2 linked regions of the Homo sapiens genome follow. The protein of the gene in region 2 purifies or fractionates together with the protein of the main gene of each other region. This does not show direct contact. Each region holds a gene or a part of one and is shown on either strand. Other genes may lie near its edges.

Region 1 (3,399 bases), on a different chromosome or scaffold from region 2:
GCCAGGGCCAGGTGAGCACAGAGAGGCGGATCTGGGAGGACACAATGGCACTGGGCCCCTTGGAGTGAGCAGTGGAAGGGACAGAGCCCTCAGAGCCACAGGACGGCTTTGAGCCCAGCTCTATCCTCTATCGGCTGCATGATCCCAAAATAGCTTTAATTGTTGTGTATTCACCTGTAAAATGGGATTAGCTCATTCAGGGAGGATTCAATGAGATGTCTAAAGAACACCTACACAGAGTAGACGCTAAGCAGGTACCACACCTGGAAGGCGGCCGCAGGTCTTCTAGCTAAGCTGGCTCTCCTGGTTGAGAAGACAGGGGTGAGCTGGGGACAAGGAGCCTGGGCAGAGCCTGCCAGGCACCCACAGCCTGAGCCAGGCATTGAAATAGGAAGGATGGACAGCTGGACCACACCCTCCTCTAACCATCCTCAGCGCCCCCAAACCCACCAGAAGCAGGCTGCGGCAAACCAGAGACATCATCCTTCTGCCAGAAGTTGCAAAGCCCTACCCCTTCCCACCTTCAGCCCCAGAACATGAGGAAGACAAACACAGAAGCATCTTTCAGTGCACTTTAATCGAAATTCCATCATCAGAAGAGTTCTCGTAGCATACAATGTCAGGATGGGCATGTCGACTTGGTCCTACAAATGGAATATCCACAGATTTGCACTTCAAACATGTATGAAAAATAAAATATATAATATTTAGCTTTATAAATTTCCCCACTTAGTCACTTTATCTTTAAAATAAATTACTACTCCCGTCCAATACAGTGAGTAGCTTGGAGTCACTCAGACAATCTCTAGCCAAATGATCTCTGTTTTCTTGAGGAGTTCTGTAGGGAAATACTTGATGAAGACAGTCCAGTGCTTACAAGAATCAACATGAATTTAAAACGAGCACACTCTTCACAGTGGGGCGGAACATCAGAAAATGGGAGCCTTCTTCTAATGGCTGTTCTTTTCTGTTGGGAAAAAAAAAAAACAAATCCTCCAAACCACACCGGATGGTTGTAAAAAGCTGCAACGGAACCTTTGGCACCAGATGAGAAGAGAGGCCTTTTAATGCCATAGCTAGTGATGATTCAGTCAAAGCATCAGTCTAAGGAAGGATGATGGGGGAAGGGACCGGAGATCACAGCCCTTCTCCTTTCTGAGCCCCCCTCCCCCCCGATGTCCCCTTTCTGGAGACACAGACAGCCCCTCTGCTTTGGGGAAGGCGGGGCTTTGTCTGGGCAGGCTGGGCGTTCTTCAGACGGGAAGATTCACAATGTATAGAACACAAAGGGAGAGGCCCTTTTGCAGATCGGGGGGTAGCCGCTTGCTGCGAGCTTAGTCACCAGCGGGGATGCACTCAATGCACAAGGGACATGGCCACTCCAGCGGGACGGCTGCACAGCCATGAAAGGGGACAGACAGAAGGGGTGCACGGGACACCAAGGAACTGGAAGGCGGCAGGACTCAGGCTGCGATAGCATTTACAGGGGCTCTGAAGAGGGGCTGCTGGACCTGCCTCCACTTGCAGCAGGAAGGCAGATATCCACCCACTTGGGGCAGGTGTCTTGGGGGCATCTTCCCAGGGGACCCTGGCACTACTTCAAACAGCAACAGAATATTGGTAGGGAACAAACAAGCCAGTGACAGACACTGCCCCAGCCCTGGTCTTAGAGATTCCTGGGGAATGAGCTCTGGGAACCCTGAGCCCAGACTGACAAGAGTTTAAGTGGGGCAGTCTATGGCCCTGAACTTCCATGGCAACAGCCTGATCCCGGCCTCCTGGACAGAGGAGAAGGCGGCTACAAGTCAAGGAGACGCTCCTCACACGTCTCCACGGGCCACTTGGAGGCCCCTCCGAACACATCGACGTTATTGTCCACCCACGGGATGATGTTGCCCGGCATGTTTGTGGAGCAGTTGGCGATGTTGACAATTTCTTGTGCGCGAAGGACGCGGTCCCATATGTTGAACTGGCTGAGCTCCCCGACAAATGCCTGAGTGGCATCAAACCTACCCCCCACGGTGTCCTGGGGAATGGGAACAAGAGAGCTGCGTCAGGGCTGGTTCACAAGTCCCCCTGCACACGGGCTGCAGACAGGAGATTTGGGCATTTCTCTGATGCCCCCCAGCTCTGACCAACACTACCTGTTTCTGTAGGTTCTGAAGCTCCCAGGCATGTCAGAACTGGGAGGTGGCATCGCTCAAATCTCCCCATTTTATACAGGGGAAACTGAGGCTGGTAAGGGAAGACACTGCTCAAAGTCCCAAAGCCAGGATCAGAGCCAGGTCTCATGACTCCCAGCCCCTCCCAGCGGAGATGTAGCAGGGGAAATTGAGGGAGGAGTGGGCCAAGAAGGAACCAGACTCAAAGCCCCCCAGTGCACCTGGAGTCTACGCCCCACTGTCCATCATCAAAAACCCAAATACAGACTGGAATGCCAACACTTATCTGTCCTAGACCAGACAGCCAACTTAGCCATTCCCTCCCCTAGATGGTAAGTTTCTTGAGGGCACTTTGAGGTGCCACCCTTTCATCCCTGTCTCCCCCACAGGCTGAGCACCCACTATGGATTACCTAAGTGCCCCTTGCTGGGTATCAGGGTTAAGACCCTGAGCAGGGGGCTCCTGGAAGACACCAGCCCCACAATCCTGAGTTGGTACCATGAGCATCCCAGGAGGGTCCCTCACACAGCCTCCTCCCAGATGGAAGCTGGAGCCTGTGTCACGAGATGACCCATGACCACAGGGACACTCACACCCCTCTGTGCCAGGTTCTATTTGGAATCTGTTTGAACCACACACCCACCTGGTCCCTGCCATGCAGGCCGTGACCCCACGCCCAACCTCTAACCACAGGACAGCAAGGGCCAGGCTGCGGGGGTTCTCACTCCCCCGACCTGGCTGTCAGGACACTGTGGCCAGGTCTGAGGGGCCAACAGCTGGGGCCGGGAGCAGGAACAGCTGCAGGCCTGGCCTCGTGCTGCTCAGTTGGCCCCTCCTCGCACCATCCCTGAAAGGGCGCACGGCCACCCTGTGCCCATCCTGCACCCACCCTGTGCCCACCTGCACCTGCCCTGCACCCACCTGCTCTTGTCCAAGGATCAGCACGCCCCCGGGCTTGATGGGGTGCCAGGGGGCCAGGTTCTCCCCAGTGCCCAGCTTCTCTCCGTCCTGGAATGCCTCCCACATGCCATCCCGTGTCGTCCAGGTGACACAGATGTGGTGCCACTTGCCGTCACTGACAAACAGGGGCAGCTGCGCAACCTGTGAGCAGCAATGTGCAGGTAAGGACCTGCTGGGCCCACGCCCTCAGGGTCCCCCAGGGCAGGAAGCAGGAAGGACACCCCACAGTCCCCCTGGGCCACACTGCTCCTCCTGTCACCGGGGTCATGCGTGGAGA
Region 2 (3,733 bases):
TAATAATAGCATTCTTCCACATATTCCTCATACTGGGGTCCATTTAAGATTAAGAAACTTTCCAAGACTCTGGAGAAAGCTTTCCAGACCCTGGACACTAGTTAAAGATTAGATATTGATAAGAATGAAACACGCTGTCTTGCAGGTGCACTCCGCACATAGGCGTGGAGCTTAGAATGCATATAAGCACTAGAAAAAGAAGTTTGTAGCTTTGAGTTGGTCTGGTAAGCTACTCTGACCTTCTCCCCATAGCCAGTTGGAGAAAGAACCTCCGTTCTTTCCCAGTCTGTCTGCATCTCCTTAACGTACATCAAGAACAAACAGCCGGGTCCTGTTCTGTCCCAGAACTGGTGGGAGAGGGAGTGCCTCTCCGAAGCCCTCTCGCGATCCCCACCTCCTCCCCACCCCACCTGGGCTGCTCCCGATGTTGTGACTGGGTTCAGGGAGCCATGGGGTGGTGGAGGCTGGTGTAGGAGGGTGGCCCCTGTCCCAGGTGCGGCCAGGGTCCTAGTCACCGAGCACAAATAACAAAATAATAAATTTAAAAATAAATGGAAAAAGAGAAAATAAGTGTGTGCACGAACAGAACAAATGGAAAGGCCCAGATGCCTCAGGGTGACAGAGAGAAGGGGCCCCACGTCACCCTCTGTGACCCCTTTCAACAGTCCAAGCTCTCTAATTCATGAATTCTACAGCATTCATTTATAAAGTACATAAATTTATTATGATCCTGTGCTTTGCTCCTGGATAGAAGAGAACTTGAGATGATGGAAAATCTCACAGAAGGGTGAAGGGTTCCCCAGCCAGCCTTGGGGTGGTGCCGGGTTGATGTTGGCCATAGGGGTCATCAGGAGGGTTCAGAGTCCCTGGGCCCCCATCAGCACACGCATCTCATGCTGTCCAGAATTCTAGAAGGGGACCTGTGGGCCTCCTCAGGGCAGCTGCAGGGTGGGCCTCAGACAGGTCACAGAATGAAGTGGGCAGTTGAGTGTGTGTTTCTCTGGCCCCCAAACAGCCACTCAGCATCCCAGATCTCAGGTAACACCAGCCTCTTTCTCCAGGCCCACCCAGGAAGGAGAATCCAGGAGTCATCGTTCCCCTGATGTTCCATTAGCTGACACTGGAGATAGTGACAGAGAGAGACACTGAGCGGGACAGAGATGGCCAGAGATGGGGGCGAGACTGAACATGGGCAGAAATGAGGACAGGAGAGCCAGGAGGAGAGGACAGCGGGGTAGAGAGAGTGAGATTCTGAGAGGGAAATAAAAATGGATGGAGACACAGGTGTAGGGAAAGGGAGAGGTGGATTGAATAGAAGCAGGGGGCAGAGACAGGGAGACAAGGAGAATGGGGGCTCCACCCAGGGCAGAACAGGCATGCAGCTACCCTGCACCCACAATCCCACGGAGGGGACAGGACTCACCTGCGACAAAGCCTGTCATCCGAGGTCCGGGCTGAGTCGCAGTTCTGGTTTATCAGCTTCACCATGAAGGTCCAGGGGCAGCACTGCTCAAAGCAGACTCTGAAGGTGCAGTTTCCACACGTCTGGGTCCTGGCCAAGGGCACGACGGCATCATCATAGCAACAGTGCTGCAGGGGGTCGTAGAACTTGTCCCCACATCTCTTGTGTGGCTGGCACAGCATCAGGTAAGGAGTCATGGGGGCCACTGGAGGAGACAGAGCTGGTGAGATCCAGGAGGTAGTGGCAGGTGGGTCCCAGCCTGGGGTCCCCTGGAAGGTGTACCCCTCCTCCAGCTTCCCAAACACTCCTGGGCTCACCTGGGGCTCCGTGTGAGCAGAGGAGCCTGGAGATGCAGAAAATGGCAAAGACAGCTGTGGGAAAGGGAAAGGGAAGATGGGGTGAGTGGACAGCCACAGATATGACTGGCACTGACATTTAGAAGAAGACTGGGTGGAACCAGGGCTCGGTATGGCTTTGAGCAGCTCAGGGACTGAAACAGGGCTGTGGATGGGGCTGATCTGGGCACTATGGATGGGGAATTGCTGTGAGCAATTCACGCCTGGAGATTTGGCTGGGCATGGGAACAGGGATGAGGTGTAGTTTGGGGTAGGGAGAGAGCCCTGGTGGTGGCTGAGATTGGAGATGGGCTCAGGTGGGAATGGGGTCCTGTCCTCCTTACCTACGATGCAGCCTCGGGGAGCCATGGCTCTGGGTGGTTGCAGTGGAGTGAGGAGGGGATCAGCAGATCTCAGCCACTCCTTTTATCCCATATTTCTAGTGGAGCTGGTGATGTCATGGCATTTCCTGCCCTCCTGCAAGTCCTGCAGAGACAGGCTGGGTCCTTGGGCAGGAGAGGTGCCAGGCAGGGTACGTGTCATTGTAGCTTTGATCTCACCTTTGTAATCAGGAGAGAAGCGGTACACCCTCCACCTTCTCTGTGCTATGTGCCCCAATCGTCCCCCACACTGAGTCCTCTGGAAAATAGGAAGGTTCAGGATGCTCCTGGCATTAACACTCTCCGACACTCACATGTCCACACAGCGATTCCACAGGATCCTACTGAGCTATGACTTTCCTCAGTTTCCTTGGGACATTGCTAACCCATGACATCATTTCAAAGGGTCCCATTAGGTCCCAACCTCACAACCGAAACACATGGTCAAGAATCCAGTAACTTCTCAGTCACCTGCAGCTCATGGCATTCAGGTGGGAGAGACTGTGTGACTCAGGCACCTGACTTTCACAGGTTTGGAAGGTGGGAGTGGAGCTGGCGGGACCCCTGGGACTCAACACTCCTCTGGGGGCTCTTCATCTCCTTCTCTGTCTCATTAATGGTCATTTACCCAGGACAGGTCCACTTGGGAGCCTACATGTCCCAGGCTTCGTGTCAGACACCAGTGATGCAGTGCTGAGTAGAAAACGCAAAGTCAGTGTCTTCGTGACGTTCATGACAGTGAGAGGAGAGAGAGAGAGAGAGAAGGTAGGAGAATAAAACTCCTGATTTTGGTTATTGTCGTTCTTGTGTTTGGTGTCATTATCACTGTGAAGTTCTGGTGGAGAAATTCCACATCCCCCCCTGAGATTCTCAAAGGTGTTTTTCCTTAATGTGCTTTTTCAGAGGGTTGGGTTGTGATTTTCCCTGAGAAGAGCCATCTTGGGGTCAGGATGTGAGGACAGAGGGGAAGGAGCTGTTTTGGGTCAGTTCTGTGCCCCCCTACCCCTGCCCAGCTTCTGCAGGAATTCCTCCGCTCAAGCTCACAGGCCACACATGGCATGGACAAGCCGTTCTCCTCCGGGCCAGGCAAGGTGACCTGTCACCCTCTAGGCACCATGGCTGGCTCCTAGCAGGGCATGGATGTGGTTAGATTTGTGTGTGTGGAAGATCCTGCATCTGTGTTCCTGGGGAGCACGGATAGGGGCTTCTCTCTGGAGGCAGGAGACACAGGAAGAGGCTGCAGAGAAATGACTTCAATAAATACCAGAGTGCTCAGCACCCACCTTCTCCCTCGACAGAGCAGACCCTGCTTCCAGCACCATCTCCCTGTCTGCTCCCTTGGCCTCTGTTCCTTGCTGCTGTGGGGTACAGCAGTGTTTTCTAGGACACAGATTAGGATGTGCTAGTAGCATGGAAAATCAATTTACTTGGGCATAAACAATGTTATTTTTAAGTGAAGAAATGGGTTAGAAAATGGGACAGTGTGCATTCAACAGAATGCTGTGCTCAACTGTTTATGACACTTTAAAAAAAATTATTTATTTTTTTGAGATGAA

The links.
Region 1: the proteins of IGFL1 (region 2) and NPTX2 purify together in Homo sapiens (affinity purification with mass spectrometry; one large-scale study listed by BioGRID and IntAct). This does not show direct contact.

What each region holds. Positions count from the first base shown.
Region 1 is NC_000007.14:98,627,029-98,630,427, reverse strand, and holds the end of NPTX2 (neuronal pentraxin-2 precursor), read right to left. Parts: intron 3,264-3,399; coding exon 3,084-3,263; intron 2,027-3,083; coding exon 1,799-2,026; 3' UTR 559-1,798; downstream 1-558. UniProt on the Homo sapiens protein: Likely to play role in the modification of cellular properties that underlie long-term plasticity. Binds to agar matrix in a calcium-dependent manner.
Region 2 is NC_000019.10:46,228,208-46,231,940, reverse strand, and holds IGFL1 (insulin growth factor-like family member 1 precursor), read right to left. Parts: upstream 2,200-3,733; 5' UTR 2,167-2,199; coding exon 2,142-2,166; intron 1,834-2,141; coding exon 1,780-1,833; intron 1,668-1,779; coding exon 1,424-1,667; intron 1,121-1,423; coding exon 1,111-1,120; 3' UTR 698-1,110; downstream 1-697. UniProt on the Homo sapiens protein: Probable ligand of the IGFLR1 cell membrane receptor.